2 separate regions of the Homo sapiens genome follow, and region 2 is linked to region 1. A link means that fine-mapping ties the variant in region 1 to the expression of a gene that starts in the linked region. Tissue or cell type: whole blood. Region 1 holds a variant in brackets; the other region holds the start of a gene. All regions are shown on one strand. Distances are between the middles of the regions.

Region 1 (4,353 bases):
GATTGGAGAAGAGAGTAAAAAGAGGCTGCTTACCCGATTTAAAATCAGTGAGCTGTTCCTTGGGCTGGTTGGTCTGAGGACCTGAGGTCGTAGGTGGATCTCTTCACAGAGTAAGGGTGAGGACAGGGGACTGGTCTCCCAAAGGAGTCCCGCTGACCCGGGTCTTCGGCACCAAATGTCTCATGTGTCTGTGTGAAGAGACCACCAAACAGGCTTTGTGTGAGCAACAAGGCTGTTTATTTCACCTGGGTGCAGGTGGGCTGAGTCCGAAAACAGAGTCAGCAAGGGTGGTGGGATTATCATTAGTTCTTATAGGTTTTGGGATAGGTGGTGGAGTTAAGAGCAATGTTTTGGGAGCAGGGGTTGGATCTCACAAAGTACATTCTCAAAGGTGGGGAGAATTACAAAGAAATTTCTTTGTAATTTCTTAAGAAATTACAAAGCGTGGGGCAGAAACAAATCACAATGGTGGAATGTCATCAGTTAAGCTATTTTCACTTCTGTGGAACTTCAGTTGCTTCAGGCCATCTGGATGTATATGTGCAGGTCACTGGGGATATGGTGGCTTAGCTTGGGCTCAGAGGCCTTACAAGGGTGTGTGTTCTGGGGCAGACAATCCCCCTTTCCCAGTTCCACAGCTTGGGCAATCACTGTGTTTGGGGTGTCTCCCAGGTCCTGCAGGAGCAATCCTCTTCCTTCAGAGGGTCTGTGGGTTTTCTTGGCTTTCCTGATTTATTCCTGCAGTAGTTCTGGAGCAAAAGTTCATGATGAGAGTGTCCACACACTGCTCTGTCTGTCCAAGTGGGAGCTGCAAACTGTCCTGCCTCCCATCTGCCATGATGTTCTCAAGTCTCTCTTGTCCCTTCTCTCTAAAATGCATTGGTGAATTCATTCTTAAAAATACAGGTAAAGCCTCACATTCCCTGTGAGAACACCTCCAACCATCTTTTGCACATCTCTAGCATATCACTTAGCATATCACGTTAGAAAGTTTTATTTGATATATTTCTCTCCTTTGAGTATAGGAAACCTCAGTTTCATGAGGATAGCAATTAGCTGCATTTATTTTGTTTGTTTGTTTTTGTTTTTGAGACAGAGTCTCACTTTGTCACCTAGGCTGGAGTGCAGTGGCGTGATCTCGGCTCACTTCAACCTGCACCTCCTGGGTTCAAGCAATTCTCCTGCCTCAGCCTCCCGAGTAGCTGGAACTACAGGTGTGTGCCACCACACCCAGCTAATTTTTGTATTTTTAGTAGAGACAAGGTTTCACCATGTTGCCCAGGCTGGTCTCGAACTCCTGACCTCAGGTGATCCACCCACCTTGGCCTCCCAAAGTGCTGGGATTATAGATGTAAGCCACAGCACCTGGCCTGTTTATTTTTAAAAATAGTACCAAGCATATAATAAAAACTCAATGAGTTAGTGAATGAATGAATGTAGTGAATACAAGATTCAGTCACTTAACTATGGAGTGACAACCATCTTCTTTTACTCATTTAACACATTTATTTGGCAATTATTTGTTTCATGTCTACTTTATGCCAGGCATCAATCCAGTACAGCCAATGAGCAAGACACACAAAGTTACTGCTTTCATGGAGCTTACATTCTAGCAGCAGTGACAGAGAAAAAATGGAGCAATAAGTAAACAAGGAAATTATCAGATAATGATGAGTGCTTTGAAAGACTCAGCATAGGCTGACATGATAGAAAAGAGGGTCAGGAAAGGCCTCTCTGAGGAGGTGACATTGAAGCTTAGATCTGAATGACCTGAAGGAGCCAGCCATGCCAGACAGATGGGAAGGCTGGAGCAAAAGCCCTGTGGCAAGAATGAACTTGACCAATTCTCCAAAAACAAAAGGGAGAGCAAGGTGATGAAAGAGCTTAATGAAAGGGGGAACTTACTGTGAGGGGAAAGGTAGGCAGTGGCAGGTACTGTGGGGCTGCGTAAGCCAGGTTGGGCATATGGAGTTGAATTTATATGCAGTAGGAGGTTTTTCAGCAGGTGACAACATGATTTAATTTATGTTTTAAAAAGATCACTCTGGTGTCTCATCAGAGGAGAACTTATAGTGGATTAAGAGGGGGAGCAGGGAGTCATCTCAGGAGGCTACTGCAGTTGTCCAGGGAGAGTTGATGGGATGGTGGCTTGGATGGTGATGGCAACAATGGAGAAGGGAAAGAAGTGTACTGGTTCAGGGACATTTTGGAGGTTTGCTCTTGAGTTGGATGAGTAGCAAGAGGGGGTAAGAGCTTTCAAAGATAGTTTGATGAATGCAAATCCTTTATTCACTTTTGTTACCAGGAATTTAGTACTAAGGATTTTATTCACCTTTGTGACCAGGAATTTAGCACTAAGTATTAGTCAAAAGAGAAAAGAGTGTGGAATCCTTTTGCACATCCTTGCCGATGGCTATTGGGTCAAGTGGAAAGGTAAAGAAGACTTGTTTTTGGACAGAGGCTGACCTTGGGGATACTAAGCATTTTCTTGAGGAGGGGAGT[T/G]CTTTGGCTAACAATATTTAATATGCCCTCGCAAGATACCAAAACCAACCAGCAAGAGACGCATAGCATCTACTGAGGTGCCAACAATATCAGAAGTTGAAGATGCCAACACAAAAGGACCTCTTGGGCCTTTCTTTTAGGTGTGTCAGTGAATGTGAGATGTGGAGAGACAATGGAACATGGTTAACTGAAGTCTTTTTCAAAAATGCCTTCTAGGAGACCATCAGGCTGCCTACTGGAGCTTTGGCTGCTTTTCTAGCCAAATAGGAAATGTGTGAGTGTCCTAAGGGCTCGGGCCCCGTCTTAGTCATCTTTGAATTCCCACCCAAGGATTAGCAGAATGCATGACATAATACATTGCAAGAGCTGAGTGAAGATTTAAGCAAAGGGAAAAATGATAATTGTCCCAGAGGATAGTCCAGCCCTTTGTATGCTGTAACCTCAATATCAAATTTATGTTTTGTGGTTTGGCTATGATCCCATTAAGGCTAATTTCTCTTTCTTGGGAAACATTCGATCATAATCAATTCCTTTGTTCCGTTTTTTTTTTTTTTTTTTTTTGAGACAGGGTCTCACTCTATCACCCAGGCTAGAGTGCAGTGGCATGATTCAGCTCACTGCAACCTCCCGAGCTCAAGCGATCCTCCATCCTTGGCCTCCCAAGTAGCTGGGACCACAAGTGTGCACCACTGTGTCTGGCTAATTTTTGTATTTTTTTTGTAGAGACAGAAAAATACCCAGCTTGGCTAGTCTCAAACTCCTGGATTCAAGCAATCTGCCTGTCTTGGCCTCTCAAAGTGCTGGGATTACAAGCATAAGCCACCATGTCCAGCCTTCCACATGTTTGATTAAATATGCTAAACCCAATTTTCCAATGTACATTTACAAAATAATTTTTATTTTTTGTTCTGTTGCAAATTTTTGTGTCACTTGATAACTAATTGCCACCTCAGTTATATTTACTTATATGTACAAACATACTATATACAAATTTTCTTCATTTGTTAAAGAAAATAAAATTTAATTGAATAAAAATTATGAATACAAATAAACAAGTGTAGAAATAAAGGGTACCCATAACTTTGCCTTCAAAGAAACTTTAAAGATTTACACAGGGACTTTTTTCTATGTATATATACGCATACACACACACACACACACACACACACACACACACATTTTGTGGGGGTGACAAAAATGGGATCACTGTAGACTTAATGTTTTGCAATTGGATTTAAATATTCTTTTAAAATATAAGTAATATAATTAATAAGTGGGAACTTAACTTTGAGTTCAGAGTGTGCTGCTTCTTCTTTTTCTCTTTTCTTTGACAGTATTTCTTTTTATACCTTTTATAACATAGAACATTATTCTATGAGCCCAACTGAGAAAATGAATGGAAGTTCAACTAAGTAAGATGTCAGCCCAACTTAAGGACTTAGGCATCTGGTGAGTGGTTGGACAAGATGACCTCTGATTTCTCCAACTCTGAGATTCTGTGAATGGAGACAGGAGATAGGAATTTGTAAGGCTAATTGGACTGAAAAGACTGAATTACTGGTATAAGGGAGTTCTGGGAAATTAGGTTGGAAAGGTGGATTATGGCCTGGTTGCATTTACATCTTGGCTCTCCAGCTGGGCATGTAGATGCATGTTGGGAGCAAATGCACATCAAAGAAGAGTGACAAGATCAGGAATCTTCTGCTTCCCCTTCTCCTTCCCCTTCCCCTTCCCCTCCCCCTTCCCCTCCTCCTCCTCCTTTTTCTTCTTCTTCCTCCTCTTCTTCCTCTTCTTCTTTTTTCTTCTTCTTTCTTCTTCTCCCTTCCTCTCCTCTCTTTTCATCTTCCTCTT
Region 2 (4,176 bases), 50 kb before region 1:
TCTCTCTACCTCTGGGGCAAAACTTCTATTGTCCAGGTTTATATTTTTGTAACATATGACAACACTTTAAAAGACAACTCTAAATTACTTGATTATTAGAGGGTTTGATAATATTTCAAAGTTTATCTGCCTGGATTTAATTCTTACTAGCTTTATGACATTTAAAAAAAATCCTGACAAATATGAGTGTATTTCCTATATTTGACTGTATTCAACTAAAATAAAGAGATGGGCTCATTCCTCTACTAAATTTCAGATCCCGTCTTGGCCAAATGGATCACAGTGAAATTAGTTCACTGGCTCAAGCTGAAAAAAATAGGCGGCAAGGCTGTGCATTACAAATTAGGCTTTTTAATGAAATCCGCATGGTTGCAGTTATTACCAGAGAGAAACATGCTGAAAGGGAAAATATTCTACAACTGTGCTGTTTAGAAAGCATAAAATCAAAATCTAGGTTAATTTCGCCTTCTCTTTATTTCTTTATTCTATGCAAGAATCTATGCATTTTTCCCCAAGAAATTCAATTTTTTTTTACTATTAAACACAATAATGAACATAGAGCAATATCAATTTGTATCATGAGAATTAAAGCATTGTTTAGCATACTGTAATCTAAGGGGTGTTTTGGATTTTCTGCATTTTCCTTTTTTGATCTATTGTTTATCTTCACTGTTTGGCCTGTCTCATTCCTTACATTTAACAAAACAAAATAACAAAAGAAACTTTCCTTGTCTAACAAAAGGGTCAGAAAAGTATTTATATGGATAGTAGAAACAGAAAGAATCAAAGTGGTAAGAATGCATTCAGAAGGAGAAACATTTTTCACTTTTTTCTGTACTGCAAGCTGGCTTGGTCAAAATAGTCAAAATGTTTGAAAAAACTAAGATATAGACTATAGCTCAGAGTCCATGAAGCAATTATTATAAAATTTTCGTAGACTCCAATTTACCTGTTAGGATTCTGAAATCTGATTGCAAATGCATTGACATAAAAACAGAAGACTATATTGGAGTTTCTAGTTGGTTAAAGAAATACTCCTCACTGTACTACTACATCTGCTTTGAAAAGTTTAAAAATATATTTTCATACTGAATATAAATATTAACTGCTATTTTCTACTGAACAATTCACTTTATAAAATGCTATTTTTAAATTTTAGAGGACAAGAACGCTTAAAAAAAAAAAAGCGTATGTATTCCAAAGGCTATCTTTCCTAAGCATTTTCTTTGAGAACATCAGCCTTGTACAGAATAGAAAAAGTTACTGCTTTAAATTTCCTTCTCCATGATTTAAAGAATTGACATTCTCAACAAGAGGCTCATGAGTGAAGGTTCTTACCAAGCCATATGGAGTTATGAAAAATTCCATCCTTGAATCCCCATCCTTGAGTGTCTTCCCATAGCAAGAGAAATAAGTAAATTAAGATGATCATATCGTCAGTTGTAGTGAAGTAACAGCCTGTTAGGGGCTGCTCACAAATTCTCAGAGCAGTGGCTGAAATGTGACTGAAACATCTGGTTTCCACATCTTTTAAATAGTTTTTTTCAACTGTGAGGTCAGCAAGTACTCTCCAATGGCATTTTCCGCTGTAGAGTTACACAATTATCTCAGTGTCTGAAGCAAATCCTCTGACTCATTTGCATTGGCAACCAAAACTAAGGAGATAGAATGATCATCTATGTTTTAAAATTAACTTACTAAGAACGGAGTTCATTTATTGTTAGTCACAAACACTTTTCTGTTAGAAAGTTTGTGTAACTTGATGCAGATTTAGCAGTGATTAAAAGAAAATCGAACTTCAGTAGGAATTTCAAGATAAATCCTAAATGTCTTATTTGCAGTGTCAATTATGGGATATGGGGTTAAACACTAATCTTTTATTGGTAATGTTGGACTGGCTTTTCTAAACATTGTCAAGCCTGTGTAAAAAATTTAAAACAAAAAGTATGCACAGCTTGGAGAATCCTAATTTTTCTCCAGTGATATATGACTTCCTTATTCTCTGCCTGCTTTTCTTCCAGGGTGGGGTCTGTTGCAGTCTTTGGTGTGTTATGGTCAGCAGCTAAATAAATGTATCAGCTCCCAGAAAAGTATTTCAATTTCAGAGCGTCAGGATGTTCCAGCAGCTTTGGGATGTCCTATTATAACACAGTTTTCCCAGGCCACAAATTCTTGAAGTGTTGGGAGAAAGGTGGGTAGACTAACAAAGTTAATAAAAACTTGTCCCTAGCTTCCCTAGACCACTCTAACTTTGAAGAAGACGATCAAGGTAATAGATAATAATTATTACAGTAAAGTCATCATGTCTTCAAATATCCCAAACTTTCCTCTTCCTTTGTGTAGAATCCTTGGGTAACATATCTGATAATACTCCCACTACCGCTGATGCTAATGGCATTTCCTATTGTTCATTGATAGCCATTTATTGGCAACTTTTGATTTTTTTACAAAATTGGTCATTTTTTGCTACTTAGATTCTCTACTTTTGGTCTCAAATTGCTTCCCATTCACTCCTATTATAGCATTCATTTCTCCCATGCTTTCTTAGTCCCTCCAATGATGTTGGAGTTCTTTGAAAAAGCCAACTTGCTAGACATGCTCTGGTTTGAAGTTAGCTTTGAATCCCTTAGACATCTTTGCTTTGAACATCTCAGGTGTGTTCTGGTCTCATCTCTTCTCAAAAGAGCAGTTATGGGGATGTAGGCTGAGAGTACAGAATTTATTGGATGCTCACTGAGGTATACATAAAGTTACTAGCATTGAAAATCTTTATTTTGGACTGGTGGCACATGAAAGATGAGGGAATTGTATCCAAGTTCACAGATAGGGTTAGTGAATTTAAGTTTGTTGCAAAAGAGAAAGGTATAGTTTAGACCAGGTGGGTGTGACTATGGAGAAGACAGGCATGGTTACTGAGAGCAAGATTCATAGGTAGTTGGAAGGAATAAACCATGATATTTCTTTGGAAAGTATAATTATATGCGTATTTTAAGTTTGTGGTTTAGGAAGTAAATATAACTTTAGTTGTGCAGTGCTACAGCAAAACCTTCCCATAGTCTTTCCAATTCTTTTCTTGTCACATCCTCCAGCTGTGCCCTTTCTGCATCTCTCTCAAGCACCTAATTTCCCCCTAGTTCTCATTTATCAAAAATTACTCTCAGGAAAGGGTTTGCAATTAATCTTTAGTTAGGCCAGATAACTAAGAACAGATACCCTTCTGTGTTCATTTGCATTTTAATGAAGCTCCAAGTAGAGCGAAGTGTGAATGTTCAACTTCTTTTAACACGAAAATTTAATGAGTTGCTTTGATGAATTAACCCGATCTGGGGTGGAGGATTTCTTTCTCCCCTCTCCCAACTCTCATGCAGAATATAAATATTTCCCCTTACCTCTGCATAGTGTCTGAAAATCTCATCCTCCATATCATCAAGGAAATAGAGAATAATGCCTAATGATGTAAGTTCTGATTTTGAGGGGCATTCAATAAAGGAAAGAGGAAATGGGGTTTTCATATGGAAAAGATGCAGAGGGTAATCCTGAGGACGAGAGAGAAGAAAAGAGAGAGTAGCAAAGGAAATGTTGCCTATGAACTTACCTTGGAAGTTGTCTAAGAAGCACCCTCTGCCCAGCCTCCAGCACACACCACCCAGGATAAGCCTCATGAGGAGCTGAGAGAAGATACACTGATAAAAGTTCCTTTCAGGCCGGATGCAGTGGCTCATGCCTGTAATTCCAACACTTTGGGAGGTCGAGGCAGGAGGATCACGAGGTCAGGAGTTTGAGACCAGCCAGACCAATATGGTGAAACCCCGTCTCTACTAAAAATACAAAAATTAACTGGGTGTGGTGGCTTGCTTCTGTAATCCCAGCTACTCAGGAGGCTGAGGCAGGAGAATCGCTTGAACCCGGGAGGCGGAAGTTACAGTGAGCCAAGATCGCGCCACGGCACTCCAGCCTGGGTGCCAGAGCCAGACTCCATCTTAAAAAAAGAAAAAAAAAGTTCCTTTCAAGGTTCTGGAAGACTTAACCAGTCAAGTATTTTGCCTTCTCAGAGGAATGCCCTCCCCTTCCACTATCTCTGGGTCAAGATGTGCAGTGGCTCCTTTCGCACATATCACCACTAGCTGAAAACCCAGCAAGACTGCTTTTTGTAGAGGAGTTCCTGTTTTGGTTGCT

Evidence for each region. PIP is the estimated chance that this variant, and not a neighbour inherited with it, causes the effect.
Region 2: TNFAIP6 starts here. The variant in region 1 is fine-mapped to the expression of TNFAIP6 in whole blood (TOPMed, PIP 0.98).

What each region holds. Positions count from the first base shown.
Region 1 is chr2:151,305,306-151,309,658 of GRCh38, reverse strand. LOC107985827 (a long non-coding RNA gene) reads left to right here and starts at 2,760. Exons shown (of 3, transcript XR_001739220.1): 1 at 2,760-2,776; 2 at 3,866-3,951. The variant T/G (reference allele first, on the strand shown) is at 2,503.
Region 2 is chr2:151,354,923-151,359,098 of GRCh38, reverse strand. TNFAIP6 (TNF alpha induced protein 6) reads right to left here and starts at 1,507. Exons shown (of 6, transcript NM_007115.4): 1 at 1,339-1,507. The coding sequence starts at 1,432. All of the region lies in intron 2 of LOC101929319 (a long non-coding RNA gene), which reads left to right.